3 separate regions of the Homo sapiens genome follow, and regions 1 and 2 are each reported to be linked to region 3. The links are microRNA targets in miRTarBase. Many come from high-throughput screens and were not tested one by one. Region 3 holds a microRNA gene; each other region holds the end of a gene's coding sequence.

Region 1 (3,000 bases), not on the chromosome of region 3:
CTTCAAAGGGAGCGCATCTTTTCTATGATGATATTATCAATAATGCCACATTATAGGAAAATACATTTTATGATGACTTGCTTTACATATATTTTGCAGTGTGTTCCAGATGTTACAACTGAAATACGTATTACTGTTGTTTTAATGCTCCCATTGAGCACCCTCTGGATGTCAGATTGAACAAGGAGGACACCATTCCATTCCAACTTTCCTTATAATACTGTTCTTTAACCCATGATTGTCCTCACCCTCCTGTGAGGACAATGCCCTATTTTCTCTATCGTTTCTATGGAATTTTTGTGCTGGCCAGACATTTTTTGCCTTCACTGTGTTAGTTTAATTTCTCTCACTAAGTTACATATATACTGAGGGCATTATGCAAATGCAAACAAGCAAAGGTAAATTGAATTTATACTTTATTAAAATCAAACAATACAAGCCTTAAAATTTGATTCAATAACATTATAAAACTATGCATCCTTTATGAAGTTTCAGTTGATATCTGATTAAAAAACACTTTGTTTCATAAGTGTTCAGTGATTTATGAAACTTTTAAAACAAATTAAGATGGGATTTATTACATCTTATAGCCATTATTGGACCCATTCTACATTTTGAAAGACTAAGAGAATAGGGTTAGCTATGGGAAATGCTGGCTCACTGGAAGAATCCTGCATTTTCCAACTTCCCCACTCCTAGAAGTTTTGCTAACAGGAATTGCAACTAGGAATGCCTCACCTGAAAAACTAATTTCATACAACTTTCATTAAGTAGTTTGACAATCTGTGACCCACAAATACTTCCATAGAATGGTAGAATTATTTATAATCAGAAATGATGGTGGGGTATAAAGGGAATCAAGAGAGGAGAGAAGAGGGCTAATGTTGTTTCTTCACCTCTCCCCATGAGAAAAATCATGTGAAATTGTTGCAAGACCCATGAAAGGAATTCATATATAATATTTCTGTACTATAAAATAATATGATTCTATTTGAGAAAAAATCATAGTACCTGAGTGCAAACAGTATTCACTGGCTTATTATAATCAATTTGCATGACTAATATTTCTGTTTGTTTTCTACTCAGGTGACATATTTGTTCGATAATGGAGGGACAGTCTTCTTTGCTATTTTTATGGCAATATGGGGTAAGTACTTTCTTCATTACTTTCTATCCCTTATTTTCTGAAGCTGTTTCTGTGTTACACACACACACACACACACACACACACACACACACACACCATGAATCAATTCAAAAATAAAGCCTCTAGGTTGGTACTTGATTTGTTTGCTCTCTTCATATATTCAGTGCTTCTTTAGGAATTTAACTCTTGATCTCATCCTCTAATCTCTAAAACCTAGACTTTCCTACATCAAGGAACATATTTTTTCTACCAAAGGAAGGTGGTAATTAAAAACAAACTGAAACATACTAGAATCCAAATTAATCTTCTTATATTATTGATTATGAAACTGATGCTCAGTAAAAAGTTGTTTGATATTTCCATTCATCTTTTTTAACCTTATGGTTCATACATTTAGGGATGCAGAATCTATTCCATTATGATTGAGCAATAATGTCTAATACATAAGAAATCCAGTTCCTATCTAACAACTTAAAACTGTACAAATTATGTACAGGTATATTCTTTGGTTAACTTTTTTTTTTTACCATGATTCTCATTGAGTTTTTAAGGCACCCAAATAATTGAAGCCTAAGATATATTAAGACAAGTTAAAATTCCCAAAACCTTTGAAGACTTTTAAAGAAGCTATTACTTTCCTGGGTAGGGTCAGCTTTCCTGCCATGGCCCCGTTGAATGCAGTCATTGTCAGCTTCATAACTCAGTGGGCTGATCATGTGTGTGCTGATCTAGAAAATTATAACGTACTAGAATACAGGTCTGTCATTTCTATTGCCTCAATTTCCCAATAACAGAAACTCTGGGCTATGTCCTCTTTTTAGCTTTAAGTCAAATTTTCTTTAAAAAGCACCCTTTCAATTTTCATTTAAGAAAATGCAATCTTGAATTATGGTACTAGGGCTTCAGGCAGAGCAGTAAAGAGTCATCTTCATTGTTTTAGAATTTTTTGGTGGAATAATTTTTATTATTTAGTTATGAGGCAGGGCTGTAATGGTGAAATCTTTTAGTTTTATCTGATTCCACAAATATTTTCTACTAAGAAAATACTACTAAAATACAAATTAAGGCTACTTAGTAAATGCCTCAGGATGGCCAAAAATTGTAAGAAAGAAAACCTTTGGATGATACATCCTGTCTACATTTCTGCTACTGGTCTCCTGCTTTTATGATTCTCCTTGACAAAATCCACGTGACAGTAATTTTGTGTAACCTTTTGAAAGATGAATTTGTCAAAAGGCTAGGATGTAGATGACACTTGCTGTTTAACGCCTTTTTGCTGTTAGTTCTATACAGAAGTACGAAGTGGAGGTATGTCATCCATAGGAATGCCATCACGTGCATTTTCTTCACTTTCTGGCATGGCTGAATCATTCAAAGTTGGATTGTAGTAGCTAGAATTCCCAAAACTCACATCATAAGGTTCCGGTGCATTGTCTAATCGCAGAACTAAAAAAGTAACAAAATAATACTGTTTCACAGTGATACTCTGAAAGATTCATGTTCAGGCATCCACCAAGTTATAGGAATTATTCTAGATGAGAAAATAAATATATTTTTATATGGGCTTTTTAGATTTTAGTTTTAAAATTTTAAATAAGTAGATGTTTTTCAAGCTTCATTTTTTATAAGACTAAGAGTACAGTTTTACTTCCAAAATTTTACTGTTGATGGACTCAAAGTAAAGGAACTAAAGAAGAGACCAGTATAGTATATCAATACCTTGCATAAAGAAGTGTAGACCATACCTCATTGACTTTTGAATCTTGTGATTTCAAAGCCTTGTCAACATGTTCAGAATTTGTCACTTCTGGTGTAAAATTTTTTTAAGTGAAGTCAATAATTTTTAAATTAAT
Region 2 (3,000 bases), not on the chromosome of region 3:
TTGAACATGACACTTTTTTTTTTTTTTTTTTTTAAACATAAGCTGACAGTGGGGAAAACAGCACTATATACCTTTTGGACTTTCGTATTTCAACTATTCTTGATATTGCTCCTTTTTTTTAGGAAGAAGAAGAAGAAGAAGAAAACAGGATGTCTGAAGAAGCAGAAAAACAATATCAACAGAATAAATTGCAGACTGATTCCATTGTTCAGACAGATCAACCAGAGACAGTGATATCCAGCTCATTTGTGAATGTCAATTTTGAAATGGAGGGAGACAGTGAAGTAATTATGGAAAGCAAGCAAAATCCAGTCTCTGTCCCACCATAAAATGAAATGACTATCAAGCTTCAAACTCTTAAGTTTTTTTTTTTTAATACAAAAACTTTCACATTCTTTATTCAGTGGGACTTAATACAATTATTTATATTTTAAATTATTAAAGTATCTGGAAAGGGAAAATGTTTTCTTCATTTTTAGGATCTATCTAGCAAAAGCCAGATCTGAAATTCAGATATTTGTACTGTTTTTACTGTGTATAGAAATTAGTGCTTTGGTTTTAAAATGATCTTTTAAAAAAGTTAAGGACATCCTAGAGCCTTAATAGTTAAGAAGAGTTAAATTATCAAGCCTATTTGTGCATTTGCTTTTTTTGAAAAAGGTAAGTTGCTGATTAAGTCTAATTGGAATTGATAATTCCATAGTCTTAGATTAAAATGAGGATATTTTCTCCTAGATTTTCTCATGTTATGCCATGCATTTATATATCTAACCATTAATTTCACACTAAGGATGCTTCACCATATAATAAAAGGAGCAAGATGGAAGCACTTTGAATTTTCTTTCATTGAGAATAACTGTTTTATGTAAGAATCTGTATTTATAACACCAGATATTAAGATAGGCTTCCATTTTTTAATGCAAGCCACTTACTTAATCTTGTATTCTTTTTCAGGACTCAAATAACTAGCTTTGAACATAATATTAAAACACTACTTATAGAATAGATTTATTAATGTTAATACCTAGTGAATATCCATGTGGCATCCTGGTTATGTTATCGGTTCAGCGTTAATCCTATAGAAAAGTGGTTTGGAGGGGATTGGGGGATAGTGGGACAGGTATAGATTTAATCCATCAGGAGCAATTAGATATTGTATAAGGTGCAATGATAGCCTAATGAAATTACCCGTCATTCATCATTTAGAAGTAGCAACAGTGAAGACTGGACAGTTTACTTGAATCTGGTTGGCCACTCCTCTACCTACTTGGTTATTTGTAAACCTTACAAATGTATATATTGTGAAGCTAATTTTGAAAATATTCCTAAATATGGCCAGGTACGGTGCTCACACCTGTAATCCCAGCACTTTGGGAGGCTGAAGTGGGCAGATTACTTGAGGTCAGGAGTTTGAGACCAGCCTGGCCAACGTAGTGAAACCCCGTCTCTACAAAAATACAAAAATTAGCCAGGCGTGGTGGTGCACGTCTGTAATCCCAGCTGCTCGGGAGGCTGAGGCAGGAGAATCACTTGAACCAGGGAGGTGGAGGTTGCAGTGAGCCAAGATTGCACCACTGCACTCCAGCCTGGGCGACAGAGTGAGACTCCATCTTGGGGGGAAAAAAGTATATATATATACACACACACAGACACACACACACACACATATATCTCTAAATGTGTGTATAGAACCTTTTATCAGTATAACATTGATTTATAATTAAATGTGGGTGAGGAAGAATGTGTGGAGTGTTTCAGAAATTTTGATCTTAAAAGCCTTTTCAGAAACTCAAAGCTTTCAGAAATTAATAGTTATATTAATAGCCTTCTAAACAGCATTAAGTTTTCAATTTTAATATATCTATATAAAATATAGTGTCAAAGAAAGTAACATCAATATAGTGGGTCTGTAATGGAAATCTGTCAATGAACATGAACTGAGTTCTTCAACTACAGGTTGAAGGATAATTAAACTTTTCATTAGGAGTGTTCAGCTACATGGATTCATGGAATGGTGGTTCATAGTAAGTGATGGTAATCTTTTTATTCATGGGTGTAAACCCTTTATAACTTAGTGCTTAAAATATTAATCTTTTGATTATATAATGTCCCATGAATTATAGTTTACCAATAGTTCTAAAACATGCTAACCTGACCTTTTCCTTCTAATTTGTTTTTAACTTCATTCGAGATAGTACCTCTCACTCACAGATATTTATTTGGTTATCAAGTGAAGATAGGTGTGTCTAAAAGTGATCTTCTGAATCCTGTCTCCCTAGAGGTACTAGTATCTAGAGTTTACCCAGAAAATTTTATGATTGTAACAAAAGGAAGTAGTGACTTATGAAGGTTTTGTTTCTTGAATTTTACTTTTGCTACTTGTCCAATAGTGGCTAGTTTATGTTTATCAATATAGTTATTCACTGTGCCTTAAGTTTATACTTTGTTTATGCAAACTATAAAATTTCCCATAAATGTATTCAATGGTTTGTCTTACTTTAAGCCTCTTTCACTCACTTTTTCCTATCTCCTTTTCAGTCCTTTTAAGAATTCCAGTTCCAGCTGGGCACGGTGGCCCACGCCTGTAGTCCCAGCACTTTGGGAGGCCAAGGTGGGCGGATCACTAGGTCAGGAGTCCGAGACCAACCTGGCCAACATGGTGAATTAGTAGAGATGGATTTCTACTAAAAATACAAAAATTAGCCGGGCATGGTAGCAGGTGCTTGTAATCCTAGCTGCTCGGGAGGCTGAGGCAGGAGAGTCACTTGAGCCTGGGAGGCGGAGGTTGCAGTGAATGGAGTTTGCACCATTGTACTCCAGCCTGGGCGACACAGCAAGACTCGTCTCCAAAAAAAAAAAAAAAAACAGAATTCCAGTTCCTTCTGGATCATAGTTCATATTTACCTTCTTCTAATCTTTCAGCATCTCATAAAAACTAAATGTAATGTATAACTGAAGTCTTTATCCTGAATTAACATAAATTCTTTAACAAAAATCCTT
Region 3 (3,268 bases):
AATCTTAAAATATCCCCTTCCTATACACTAGTGCTCTGCTGGCCAATACAGTGGCCATTGTGTGTAATGATGTAAATATAAATTAATTAAAATGAAATTAAGTCAGTTCCTCAGTCACACTAGCCACATTTCCAGCACTCAACAGCTACATGTAGCTAGTGCCCTTGGACAATACAGATACGGCACATTTCCATTTGTGCAGAAAGTTCTAATGGACAATGCTGTTCTGGTGACTTCATTCAAACAAAGTATAAGTTCCCTTCTCAAAGATCCCATACAAAAAGAAGACGTAGGATAGACATTTATACTACAGAATTGCATTCAATGTCTCCAATAAGCTATTTCAGGACTCAGATCACCCTACAATATTTTAAATAAGGATGCAACTCAAACAAGGCGAAGAGGGAATTTCAATTTCTGATTCTACCTTCAGGGAAGATAAAAACATCTTATGTGAAGTGATTTATGAGTCAATGTGAAATAGGTAAAGAAAATCTCAAGAGAAAGAAATACAGAGGGTTAAATATTGACTTTTACAGACAGAATTCTTTACACCACTTTCCTCACTGTAATGTTACTCTTTTTCCCCTTGTACAATACTTAATACCTATTTTAGTAGATAGGTACTTTGAAACTATGTAAATATCTCATTCCTCATCATATATACAGATATACATTCATTCACCAAAAAGTATTGTTTCTCTGAAAAGACTTGGCTTCTATTATACTTAATATAGTTCCTGATTTTATAAATCACTGTGTATGTGACCATTCTCCCATCTCTGCCACCACCCCTTCCCCATGTGGATGCCCTTCTCTCCCTACTCCACGTGGGGCTAACCCCCCAAGAGGACAGCCCCTTTAGAGGAAATTTATAGACTAGAGGATTCTGAGATCTTCAGATCTTTCAAGGTGGAATGCTGCTTTGAAGATAGGATCTTTTTACTTAAAAATGTATTTAAGAAAAATATCATTAACCAAAAGCATCACAACCAAATAAACTATATTTACCTCTAAAAACTAGACTTATTCTGAAACTACAGAACAGTACAAGAAATTATATATAATCACTACATTGCAACACTTTTCAAACATTCTTATAGCAACATTTATGACGTAACAACATACCAGTTCAGATTTGAAGTAGCCTATTGTGTTTTCATCCAATTGAAAATATCTTCTCTTCCAGTTTTTCATCTACCAGAGATGAACACAGACATAAGACTTGTGTTTCTAAGAATGTCAAATGTTAGTCACCACTTAATTACCCTGATATGAACCCACAATCAGACATGCCAAGCAGTGAAAAATCTCATTACTTCCCTTAGAGATGCGATAAATTAAACCTCATCCCTCTCTAGCTACCCAGGCTTTGAATTCCTAATTCAATTTCTGGTGCCTGGCTTTCATCTTTTATTGTATGATTTTATGTGTTTTTTTTTTTTTTTTTTGAGACAGAGTCTTGCTCTGTCACCCAGGCTGGAGTGCAATGGCGCGATCTCGGCTCACTGCCTCTGCCTTCTGGGTTCAAGCAATTCTCCTGCATCAGCCTCTCGAGTAGCTGGGATTACAGGCTCCCATCACTATGCCCAGCTAATTTTTGTATTTTTAGTAGAGACAGGGTTTCACCATGTTAGTCAGGCTGGTCTCAAACTCCTGACCTCAGGTGATCCGCCCACCTTGGCCTCCCAAAATGCTGGGATTACAGGCGTGAGCCACCATGCCTGGCCTATTTCATATTTTTAATGTTGAAACTTTTTTTTTTTTTAAAAGCACTTCCCCTTCCTCCTACTCCTCGCCCCCGCCAACCCCATGTAAAGAGCAAACACAGGAAATGTTATTAAACCACATCAAGTTTCTCCATCTGTAAAAACATATGAATTCTTCCACAAGTACTTTATACATAGTAGTAAAGCACTAAATATTTAATAAAGTAAACCTATTTTGTACAAATATTTTTTGTCAATAAAATAACAGTTTTTGCAGAAGCACTTAAATATCTCTGACTGGTATTTTGGACTTAAGAGTAAAACAAAAAGGAACCATCAGGCTATGATCCTCAGTTGTGTGTAAAATTAGGGCTTTCAATCTACACACAACTGAGCATCACAGCCTGATGAGAATTCTGACTCTACCTGCAGACATTGTACAGTAAGAAACCCCTGCCCTCACCATCATTTTCCTCAGCCTAAAGCAGGTCAAACAGGTGAAAGGACATTCCCCTGGCTGCCCTAAAAAAATTAAGAGTTGCCAAAAAGTGATGAGAAGTCAAACAGAACCACCAAAATAATTTTAAGTATTTCTTTACTCACAGACTTAAAAAACATTTTCAAACTTTAAAGTTAATTTTCTCATGAAATTCTAAAGATTTAGTTCACATAGAAAGAATGGCTTAGATACTAAGGTATGTTGCAACCTTAGAAATATTGGTAAATTTACTTGCTCTTGCAAAAAATTCATCATGGAACTGATTATATGGGAATACCTGGGCTAACCCATAACAGCTTTTACTAAGTACCAGGTGCTGTGCAAAGGGAAACACACCTTTCTTATTTACATCTCTTAAAAAACAAAAACAAAACAAAACAAAACCCTAGATGGTAGGTTTTATATGATATTCCTTAAGACAGAAACTGAGGGCCTGAGAGGTTAAGTAAGTAGCCCAAGGTCAGAGAGCTTACCACGGAGGTCAGGCCAATGCCTAAACAAGGAAGAGACCTCCTAGGCACCACTCCTTCTCCTGCCGCTGGCCTGCCATCTCCCCACAACAGCTCTCTTTCCCTGACCCACTCCTGAGTATGAGTAAAGATGAATAGAAACACTTTCTAAAACATTAAACTGTTAGGAAAGCTCATTTAAACTGAAAGTCAGTGGTAATGGGCATTAACTTTCCTGGCCCCCTGCAAACCAAGCAAATAACAGCATTGAATTATAAACAGAGAATATCCCCTATTTTATCTCCTGACTCTCCTCAGCATGCCGGTCTCTCACTTTGGGTCTTTCATAAAATAAAGCAAACAATTTCCATGTTAATTTGAGTTTGCTAGAACGTAATCCTTTTTCATTATTTCATGTATTTTGTTAAGCTACTCACCACTGCTCCTTGTTTTACACAATATCCAGCTTTGATAACCGCACTATCTTGAGGTGGTTTAGGAGTAAAGTAAGGAAGATGGCTTTGTGACCGTTTCAGATTATTTCTGTCAATACTTTCACCACATTCATTTACTTCTTCTTTCTAAAATGAAGCAAAATAAATAAATTATTT

The links. Region 3 holds the annotated microRNA hsa-miR-3941 (UUACACACAACUGAGGAUCAUA, at 2,052-2,073, opposite strand). A microRNA usually pairs through its seed, bases 2 to 8, with sites in the 3' UTR of a target mRNA and lowers its output. Matches are read on the target gene's strand: a 7mer-m8 pairs with bases 2 to 8, a 7mer-A1 pairs with bases 2 to 7 and ends in A, and an 8mer does both.
Region 1: miRTarBase lists MUC15 as a target of hsa-miR-3941. Seed matches in the 3' UTR shown: 8mer at 1,202-1,209.
Region 2: the mRNA of FAM177A1 is a reported target of hsa-miR-3941. Seed matches in the 3' UTR shown: 7mer-m8 at 1,680-1,686.

Annotation. Positions count from the first base shown.
Region 1 is chr11:26,558,633-26,561,632 of GRCh38, forward strand. It overlaps MUC15 (mucin 15, cell surface associated), which reads right to left. Exons shown (of 5, transcript NM_001135091.2): 5 at 400-2,593. The coding sequence ends at 2,433. It overlaps ANO3 (anoctamin 3), which reads left to right. Exons shown (of 27, transcript NM_031418.4): 14 at 1,087-1,147. Among named protein-coding and RNA genes, the nearest start is that of MUC15, 12 kb to the right of the region's middle.
Region 2 is chr14:35,080,900-35,083,899 of GRCh38, forward strand. It overlaps FAM177A1 (family with sequence similarity 177 member A1), which reads left to right. Exons shown (of 5, transcript NM_173607.5): 5 at 123-2,479. The coding sequence ends at 329. It overlaps LOC101927178 (a long non-coding RNA gene), which reads left to right and starts at 182. Exons shown (of 5, transcript NR_110415.1): 1 at 182-660.
Region 3 is chr10:122,415,829-122,419,096 of GRCh38, reverse strand. MIR3941 (microRNA 3941) reads right to left here and starts at 2,132; the gene lies at 2,030-2,132. PLEKHA1 (pleckstrin homology domain containing A1) reads right to left here. Exons shown (of 12, transcript NM_001001974.4): 7 at 3,095-3,238; 8 at 1,129-1,197.